Regions from separate parts of the Homo sapiens genome. Here region 2 is linked to region 1. The links come from fine-mapping of genetic effects on gene expression. A gene starts in region 1. The other region holds a variant in brackets. All regions are shown on one strand. Distances are from middle to middle.

The links.
Region 2: its variant is fine-mapped to the expression of STMND1 in nasal epithelium (TOPMed, PIP 0.98).

What each region holds. Positions count from the first base shown.
Region 1 is chr6:17,099,486-17,104,867 of GRCh38, forward strand. It overlaps STMND1 (stathmin domain containing 1), which reads left to right and starts at 2,565. Exons shown (of 5, transcript NM_001190766.2): 1 at 2,565-2,853. The coding sequence starts at 2,773. All of the region lies in intron 1 of LOC101928463 (a long non-coding RNA gene), which reads right to left.
Region 2 is chr6:17,123,050-17,128,431 of GRCh38, forward strand. All of the region lies in intron 3 of STMND1 (stathmin domain containing 1), which reads left to right. Among named protein-coding and RNA genes, the nearest start is that of STMND1, 24 kb to the left of the region's middle. The variant A/G (reference allele first, on the strand shown) is at 2,690.

The sequences.
Region 1 (5,382 bases):
ATCCTTCAGGCTGAGAAGCTTGCCTCGTGCAAAGACCAGAGACAGGGGCTTCAAAGGAGTAGGGGTTGGGGTAACAGCTTTATCCTGAACCGGCTGGCTAAACATACATATTCAACAGGTTGTAGGAGGAGCTATGAATATTCATAAAGGTAGTTCGGATGCATATGTATTAAACAAACATGCATGTTAACATATCACCCCATGTTCACTTTGGGGTGATTTAACATTTGAATGTATTACAAGTAAGTCCTATATATCAAAAGGTCTTTTGAGGACATGAAGCATGCAAGTGCATAACCTCTGTCAACTGGCCAGAAACAGTCCATGGTCGCTGGTCTTCTTATCAGGAGAAAGTTACTGAAATTGATCTCTTGTCCAATCAAAGCTGTAGTTAGGGCTGGTGTCGCAGGAGGTCAGTTAGAGCCTGTGAGCTGGATAAGCTGTAATTGTTTCAATATTGCTTATTTCTGGCCAGTGCTTGTTTAGCTGCTAAAGAGAAAGAAAAACTTCATAGCAAGATTAGAACATAGTTTCTTCTTTAAATGTAGAGGTGTATGACTTAACCATTGCCTTAGGTCCTATTTATAATTTGGTATGTTACTGCCACGAAAGTTCTGTCAATCTTCTTTTTTTTTTTTTCTTTTTGAGATGGAGTCTCGCTCTGTCACCCAGGCTGGAGTGCAATGGTGCCATCTCGGTTCACTGCACTCTCCACCTTCCGGGTTCAAGCAATTCTCCCTGCCTCAGCCTCCCAAGTATCTGGGATTACAGACACCCGCCACCACACCCGCTAATTTTTGTAATTTTAGTAGAGACGGTGATTCGCCAGGTTGGCCAGGTTGGTCTTGAACTCCTGACCTAAGGTGATCCACCTGCCTTGGCCTCCCGAAGGGCTGGGATTACAGGCGTGAGCCACCGCCTGTTCTGCCAATCTTCTGGTCTCTATTTTAACATTAATGCTGATCAGTTGTTGTGTCTAAACCAAGGCGGTATAAAAAAAAAAAAAAGGCATGTCTCACCTCTCATTCCGTCATAACCAGGAACTTGGTTTTTAAGTTGTTCTTGGGTCCCCTTGGCTCAGAAGGGGTCTGTTCAGTCTATGGTGGGCTTAGGATTTTATTTTAGTTTACACACTGTAGTCCTAGGATGCTGCAAACAACACCTGCACAACACACTTGGGTACCACCTACTCGTTCTCAGCAAATCTCTGTTCACAGAGAGCCTTAAAAGAAAAAAAAAAAGTTGTGTGCAGTATCTTACCCTTACAGTTATACAAACATCCATTCAACTTGCTCAAGAACATTTTATTGGTGTCCTTTGTGTTGGAATATTCTAATCGAGAATTTCCCCCAGTTTCCAGTTGGGGCATTACATGTGTCTTATGACACCCATGAGTTAATACTATCAGAGCTGTTCCCCCAACACCATTTTAGCTTTGTTTCAACTCTTCATTCAATAAATCTTCAATGTTTCTTGCTCCATAATTATAATACTTTGAGTTGAGTTTCATTTCCTCATCTTTCCTCTTCCTCAATTTTAGTAGAAGGAAAATTGACAGCAATATCCAATAACAGTGAAATGAGTTTAAATGCTGTAAGTAATCAGCTTCCTATCACAGAGCTGAGCATTAGTTTCCTTGGAAGGACCCAGGATTTTTACACCTCTAAGAATCCTCAGTTGTACTTTCCTGGTATTGTGGAGACAGAGAGAAACTGAGTCAGGCCACCTAGTTCCTCATCCTACCTTCATTAACTAGCTTCCCGTTGACCTTGGGAAAGTCACTCAACTTCTGCAAAACTAAAAAAAAAGAGTTGATAGGAGACCTCTAAGATTCCTTTTAGTTCGTTTTAATTCTTTAAAAAAAAATAAAAATTAAGATTAAAAGAAAATATCCGGGAAAGACAAACTTGATCCTCATTGGAGCAGTCTTCCTGGTCTGCCTTTTTGGACGGATAACACCTTGATTTAATTCTCTGCTAGAAATATGCATAGCCATGCTCTTTCCATACAGCCTAACAGCTCGTAAAATGCACCTGCCATTAAAATGATTTGCGTGACCCATTTGGCGGCTGCTGAGCTGTTTATGGTCCTGACTATCTGCTTTTCTTCATCGTGTTGGTTTCTGTTCGTGCGACCGTCTTTCTGAGGTCGCTTTTGTGCCACTGCCTTCTGGTGCTGTCGGGGCCGCCTCCACACCGTCCTCCGGCCCTCAACAGCCGTCTCTGCGACTGGACACCTGCCTCGCATGCCACACGATCACCTTCACTACAGACAGTGTCTAAAAACAAGGATGTGGTCCAGGCACCAGGGGTAGGGGCGTGTCACACACACCGTGTCTTACAAAGAGGAAAAATAAGAGGTTCCCGCAAGATGCTTGCGACTCTGGTACTTTTCAAAGTAACGCAGCCAGGCAGCGGGCTTTCCCCCGGCCCCTCGCTCTGGATAGGGCTGCCATTTGCATCCTAGCTGTGATTTAGACACCTCCAACCTTCTAGTTTTCAGTTACAAGAGTCCCATCTCCGCCCAGGTCCCAGGTCTGCATGACGTAATTTATTGTGGCAACCATTCCTGGCGACTGCCCAGAAACTCAGTGCGTCCTGCCCGGGGTTTAAGCGCGGGAAGTGGGAGAGGCGGGTGGCGCCCGAGCGCAGTAGCAGGGGCGTAGGGCGCAGGGCGCAGGAGCGCGGGACCACCGGCGCCGGAGCGCGGCAGGGAGCGCTCGCGGGGGCGCACAGCAGCCAAGCCCGCGGAGGAGGAGCGCGCGCGCGCAGCATGGGCTGTGGACCTTCCCAACCTGCTGAAGACCGGAGACGTGTACGCGCGCCCAAGAAGGGCTGGAAAGAGGAATTCAAGGTAATAAACAAACAAACAAACAAACAAACAAACAGACAGAAAGCCTTTTGCCTGGGAGGTCTCGCGATTCCCACGCTTGGGGGCGACAAGAGTTGGCTGGAGCAGGGTCGGTCGAGGCTAGTTAACAGGTGGGAGCAACTTTATTCTGCCGGTGTTTAACTGCTGTCTTAACCGGGACTAGACGGATGCATAAATATCAAAATATATCTATCTATATCGATAGAGAGTATAGATACAGATATATGGCTATAAGATCAATTTTGAGAGCCTTTGGTGTTTAAAGAGATTACGAAGGTGGTCACACCCCAGGGCACAGGCAAGGAATAACCGGATGAGCAGCATGTTCTGCACAGAGCTAGTGTTGACCGTGATTCTCGAGGGAAGGTTAGAGTCCGTAGGAACTGCCATATATTATTGGCTTCTGAAAAATAGGCCCTTTGGTCGTTTCTTAAAGCTGGGAGAGATCTCAGAACCTATCTGGTTGCGTCCTCTCGATTCATAGATGAGAATCATGAGGCCCAGAGAGATAGGCGACTTGTCCGAGGCTGCACAGCTAATTTGGGGGCACAGCGAAGGTAGAATTTAGTTTTCAAGAGTTTCGTTCCAATACTCTTTTCCCTAATTCCTCAAAGTTGCATGCACTGTAATTCTTCTAGAGACATTATGGGGAATTTTTTCCAGAGCGAGACCTAGAGGGATGAGTTGGCTGAGCAGAAATGAGGTCCATGATTTCTTTGCATCCTTACCACCCTCCAGATTCCACAGACAGCGCTAGCAACCCTCAAGGGTCCACCTAAGAGGGGTTACACCGAAAGATAAGGCTAACATATAATTTATCATCAAAATTATGCTTTTAAGAGTGAAAGGAAACCCTATTAATACATTTTCCCAAAGACCCTGGCTGAAGCACAGCAAACTGGGACTTATGGCCACCTTTCCGAAGGGTCATTTTTGGAGCTACTGTTCAAAGAGCACACACTTGGTCTCAGCAGGCACTGTGCAAGACACTATTAAGTGCCAGCTGCAGCACCTACTTCATGTGGGGCACATCTCTTGGGCTCTTGGAGTACATTTTGAAACAAGCAAACCAGAATCTAGTGAAGGCTGACTCCACATTTAGTACCTGGTGCCCTGGGGGAAGCCTGTGCCCAAATGGCCACCCATCTTAACACTATTTTCTGCTTTCCATCCTGAAACTGCCACTGTCTCTGTATAGGGACCCATTACCTTTTTTTTTTTTTTTTTTTTTTTGAGACGGAGTCTTGCTCTGTCACCCAGGCTGGAGTGCAATGGCACGATCTCAGCTCACTGCAACCTCCATCCCCCGGGTTCAAGCAATTCTCCTGCCTCAGCCTCCTGAGTAGCTGGGATGACAGGCGTGCGCCACCACGCCCAGCTAATTTTTGTATTTTTATTAGAGACAGAGTTTCTTCATGTTGGTCAGGCTGGTCTCGAACTCCTGACCTCGTGATCCACCCGCCCCAGCCTCCCAAAGTGCTGGGATTACAGGTGTAACTCACCGCACCCTGCTAGGACCCATTACCTTTTATGGGGTATTTCTGCCTCTCCTGACAGGATCCTAACAAGTTTCTCCTCCACACTGCCACCTATCTTGCCAAGGGAAAAATTTCTCTTCGTGTGCAAAACCCTTTAGTTTATAATCTATCCTGTCCCTCTAATGTCATCCTCTTCTCTTGTCTTCTGCCAGTGCCTGTCACTCATGGGCTCTTGGATCTGCTAAACCAAATGACTCTCAGGGCTCAGTTCTTCCAGGCATCTCACACCTCCATGCCTTTACCTGTGCCATTCCCTCTTCCTGAGATGCCCTCCCTGGGACCCTCTCCTATTGGCCTGGTGAACTCATGATCACTTTGGACTAATACGTAGAAATACTTTTTTCTCCCATTTTTCAAAAATACATTAATGTCACTTAAAAGTGCTAATCCATTGTTCTTGTCGCCCTTTTCATACAAAAATCTTTCTTTTATTTTTTATTTATTTTGCTGGCCTGATTACATATAAGACTTCAACAGAAAGAAATGGGTTTCTTTTCTCGCCGTTATCATTTGTTCCATTTCATGGTTACTGCTAAAACTAATTTCGTTGCACAGCATAGGAGGGGATGCTAAAAACCAATCCTCTCCAAGCGTCAAATACAAGATGTCTTCTGGGCCAAGCCATTCCAAGGCCCAGGAGGGTTCCTGGGTTTCTACCTACATTTCTTGGGTAAGATAATTATCACTTCTCGCTTGGATTTTTGTGCAAGTCTCCTAATTGCTCTCCCTGGATCCTTTTTCTACTTCCTGCTACACCTGACCTCCTCCTCTAATCATCCACATGACCTCCAGAAGGATCTTTCTCAAATAAAATCTGATTATCTCAGTCCTCTTTTGAAAAGAAGTCACCAACCCATTAGGTAGGACACATAAACCCATGGTCAAGAGTATGACAAGCTAGGTTTGATTTCTAGATTTATTATTTATTTGTTGTGTGACCTTTTTCAAGTTATTTAACCTCCCTGTGCCCCAG
Region 2 (5,382 bases), 24 kb after region 1:
ATAGACACTTCGATGTCTACATACATACACCAGTAGGAATCACATTAAAACATTCTCCGTGATTCAATTGCCAGAGATGAATGAGTTCTGACTTAGACTTTGCAATGGAGCCTGCAAGGTTAATTAATATAAACTACCTTGTGAAAGAGATGCACCTTTAAAAAAATAATAACTGTGGGCTGGACTTTTAATAACATCATTAAGTGAACCAAAGATGAAGACTATTTTTCATACTATGTAGGCATATAGAATGGTTGTTGGGAACGTTCTCAAAAGGATTTAAATGTGACAGCCTTCAGGAATAGCACAATTTTGTTTTTTTGGCTTTGGTATTAGGCCAAGATATCCCAACATAAGCCAGGCTTGCAACAGACCAGGCAGCAACACACAGCTCTCTTGTTTCATCGCCTAATCCAGTGGTCCTTAACCCGCCGGTACATTGGAGTCACCTGGGGATATTTCAAACATCCCAGTGCCTAGGTACCACTTCCGACCACACAGCCTGGGCGTGTGGCCCTGCTTTCACACTTCTGAAAGCTCCCAGGTGATTCCCATGGGCAGCCCGGTTGAGAACTACTGCCGTGAAGTTTCACCAAAACTCTACACAACGCTCTCAAATCCATTACCAAAGCTGGGAAGGGTTAAAGCTTTTGAAATCATTCTTGATTCCCTATTCATTGTGAAAGAGAATTCTGAAATATTCCTGAAAATATACCATTTCAGGAATAGGAACTAAGATTATACTCAGGAAGCCTAAGGAAATAAAAGAGATGCAGTTTCTGTGTCACGGATAAAACTTCTTTCAATTCAGAGGTAGCTGAGAACATATGTGTGTCAGACACCAGGTGTCTTGCATATTTTGGGAAGAGTTATGAGGCCAATGTAAAAAGATGAGAATGAATATTGAAGGACTGAGAGGGGAACCATATTAAGAATGGAAATATTATTAGATAATATTAATCATTAATAATATTAATACTTTGAATATCTAATGTTTAATAAGTTTTTTCAAACCCAGACTGATCAAACTGGCTAAAAACAAAACAAGAAGTCAAGGGAAACAAAAAAGGGATAGTCAAAACAAAGATATTATTATGTCAGCAGTTACTACAATGTGGTAAATCTTAACAGACATGTAAATATTATTTCTTCACTGCTCTAGGGAATAACATTCTTTTAAATAAAATATTATGGGAAAAATAGAATAAATGTGAAAATACTTTGAGTCTCATGCTCTACCAGCAGAACTAGCCAAGCAGCCAAAGAGAATAGTTTAAAAATAAGACTTCTTATGTGGGCCAATAGTATATTTACATACAAGGGCATTTCAGACTTAGATCTGGCTGCTTCTTAGCCAGGTCATTATCTTTCATTGAGTTATTTAGAGTGAAATTGAATAAAGGATGTTGAAAATTGAGGGTTCACCTTCATGAAGGTCCCTCATGAAGGTCCCTCTTCCGAATCGGGGGCATCCCCCATAAGCCAGTATCTCCCTAGAGGTAAGGGGAGGATCTGTGTCCACCACAGAGGCCCCTTTGTCTTTTTTCTTAATTTTCATCATAATCTTGCTGGTGAATACCACAGTAATTCCATAGTACTCTCTGGATAACCAGCTTTCGAGATGTTTATGCGAGAATATTTTATGTTTACTTAAGAGTTAAAATCAGGCTGGGCAAGATGGCTTATGCCTGTAATCCCAGCACTTTGGGAGACCAAGACAGGCAGATGGCTTGAGCCCAGGAGTTTGAGATCACCCTGGGCAACATGGTAAAACCCCATCTCTACCAAAAAAAAAAAAAATTAGCTGGGCATGGTGGTGTGCACCTGTAGTTACAGCTACTTAGGAGGCTGAGGTTGGAGGATCACTTGAGCCTGGAAGTTCGAGGCTGCAATAAGCCTTGATTATACCACTGCACTCCAGCCTGGGTGAAACAGCGAGACCCTGTCAAACAAAAAACCCAATTAAAAAAAAAAAAAGTTAAATGTGCTAGGCATGGTGGCTCACATTTGTAATCCTAGGGCTTTACGAGGCTCAGCTGGGAGCGTCCCTTGAGGCCAGGTGTTCAAGACCAGCCTGGGCAACATGGTAAGATGCCATTTCTACAAAAAAAAAAAAAAAAAATTAAGAGTTAAAGTGATATGTAAGAAATATAAGATTAAGAAGGTAAGTATCAGATTGTTGAGGGAATCTTTCAGTGTATTTTTAAACATTCTAATTAGACTTAACTGACTATATTGTAAACAAACATTGGTTTTACGTACACATGTCGATATGTATATGGATAGGTATAGACCTCTTTAGAGAGATGTGATTGGCTCTCATTTATCCACATAGGTATTATTGAGTTCGTCTTTTATCCCAAATTCATTTCTCCCCGCCACTTAGCACATCCTGGGTCTCCCTACCTGAGGCTCTGTGAATTCACTATTGACCTCTGTGTCTGGTCAAAGTTTATTCCCTTCTCTGTGTGACTTCTATACTTGGGAACCTGAAGTGTACTTGGAGAGTTTGTTCACATTGCATAAGAGTCTCTACCATTATTTGTTGAACCTCCTGGAGAATTTTTTAAGGAGGAGGAAGTTGACTGAGTTAGGACTCAATAACGCCAGCTAATGATCGGAGTGACCTTCCCCAGGAGGTCTAACAGTGATAAAACAAGAATGAAGGGCTGTTTTGCAGGATTGGCCT[A/G]TTCTATCCACAAGACTCCTTTAAGGAAACAAAATGAAGACAGGTTCATCCGTAGGTCAATAGTTAATTAAGAAAGCTCTGAGGAATACACAGTGTATGTAAGAAGTAAAATATACAAGTTAGTAGCTAGAAACAGGACTCTAATCTAATTGCAGCATTTTGAACTTGGCAGTCCTCTGAAAGTATTCTTTAAGAAAATGATTGAACTGGTAACTTCTGTAGGTTGATTTTGTTGTTGTCAATGTGTTGTTGTTTCCACTGGTAACACCTCTCTAAGCATAAGGTGATCATTGTTTTATATATATATATATATATATATATATATATATATATTTTTTTTTTTTTTTTTTTTTTTTTTTTAAAGAGACAGGGTCTGACTACATTGCCCAGGCTGGTCTTGAATTTCTGAACTCAAGTGATCCACCTGCCTTGGCCTCCCAAAGTGCTGGGATTACAGCGTGAGCCACTGCGCCCAGCTCATTGTTAACGTTTTTAAGTTCCAACATTTGATAAATTCTGACTTCATAAAATTCAGTTGTAAAGAATACAGATATCTTTCTACAGGTTTTTTATTTTTTTACTTAAAATATGGAACTCAAGAAAGAACATGGCTTGCACAGGTAGGATTAACTTCCTCTGTGGGGAGGATCATTTTAAGATTAAGCCACGGGAAGAGGTGACCAAAACAGAAAAATCCAAGCTCTCTCAGAACTACTGATCTCAGAATTTTAGTCAAGGTTCAGGCTCCTATGTATAGCCTAATCTGGCATTTCTTTAGTGGATCTTGGATTACTACTTAATTTTCTTTTAGCCTTCTACGCATGAACATCCCTAAAAAATCATTTTCTTGCTAATTTCACAGTATCTCTAGTTGAGCCACCGTAGCAAGTATTTCCCTCTTTTCAGCGGGTGGTCTTTGCCAGCAGGAAACTTAGGAGCCAATTGTCATAAAAATAATACAAAATGATGATGGGAGAGGGAACTTCCTTTGACAAACATTCCACGGTTTTCAAGCAGTGAAAAACTTTGCACCCCATAAACCGTCCAATGGTTCTAAAGGAGCCAAAATGTCAATAAATGTTTTTTCTTTAGGAGACTTCCTGAGAATCATAGATTTTAAAGCTGAAAGGAAGCTTCACAGGCCTCTTGCCCCTTGCTGCTTCACAGTTGAGAAAATTGAGTCCAAAGAGAAGAGCTGCCTGGGTCTCCACTATGTGCTGGGCATTCCTGCCGCCCCAGAGTTGAAGCTCATGCCTGCTGCCTGATGATCCCCCCGGCTGTAGGCTCTCCTTCCTCCCCTCTGTGCTTTCGCCCCTTTCCGCTTTGTCCTGGTTATGAGTTTGTGTTCTGCCTTTGGAAGAAGTCACTGCTTTGACTGAATGAAAAGTAGCTATCATTTGCAGAGTGGCTACTTTATCCTTTTCTTTCTTTTTTAAAACCAATCCCAAAATATATGTTATTAAACTTATTTTACAAATGAGGAAACCATAGCTTGCAGAGTTTAAGGAATCATAGAGAGTCAATGCACACGCTGGGCGTGGAGGCTCACGCCTGTAATCCCAGCACTTTGGGAGGCTGAGGCAGGTGGAACACCTGAGGTCAGGAGTTCAAGACCAGCCTGGCCAACATGGTGAAACCCCGTCTCTACTAAAAATACAAAAATTAGCTGGGCGTGGTGGCACACACCTGTAATCCCAGCTACTTGGGAGGCTGAGGCAGGTGAATCGCTTGAACCCGGGAGGCGGAGGTTGCAGTGAGCCAAGATCGTGTCAATGCACTCCAGCCTGGGTGACAGGGCAAGACTAGGTCTCAACAAAAAACAAAAACAAAAAAACCCGTCATTCCATAGCCCAGCCAGGATTCAAACCCAGGGCTGACTAAGTCTCCGTCTGGTGCCTTGTTTTACTCTGCTAAACTGCCTCTCTTTGATTTATTTTCTTGGTACCTATAGCATTATAGTCTGGAGAAACAGTCTTTTAGAAATTACAATGAATATTAATAGCTCCTTTGTCTTTAAAAAAAGTCTTTAGAGAAATTATCTGGAACAATATTCAGTTCATTTTGTAATGCAGCCTTGGAGTTAACTACCCCCACCCAGTTGTAATAAATCTATATTTATATAGAAAGATGTCCATATTAAGTTAATTGAAGAAAGTTAATTGCAGAGCAGTGTATATAGTATAACTCCATTTAGGTTTTGTTTAACATTACAGATATCCTTAACATATATATGTGCAGAGTAGATATCTGGGAAGACACACACTGAACTCTTTACAAAGGTTCATGCTAAGGACTGGGATTGGGGGCCATGTGGTTAAATAGAGGATAAGGAGATGATTTATGTATCAGTTATATTTTTTATAATCAATCTATATTATCTTAAAACTAATTTTTAAAACAAAACACCTTAAAACTTTCTTCATAAATACTTTATGACAATTTTACTTATTTTGGAACTAGAAATTATAATTAGAAAGTCATCATTACTGCTTTGAACTGTTGAAAGGGTAGTTGATCATATGAAGTGGGATTTTTCCCCCGCTGTCATGAAAATGTTTGTCAAGTTCCTCCAGCAAAGCCCAGAACAGAGTTGTTGTTCAGTAATCGTTAATTATCTCTTTCTACCACAAAACCAGAAGCAATGAGAACTAATCTCTATCCCAGATGAAAGTAACTTGTAGCTTGTGGAATAT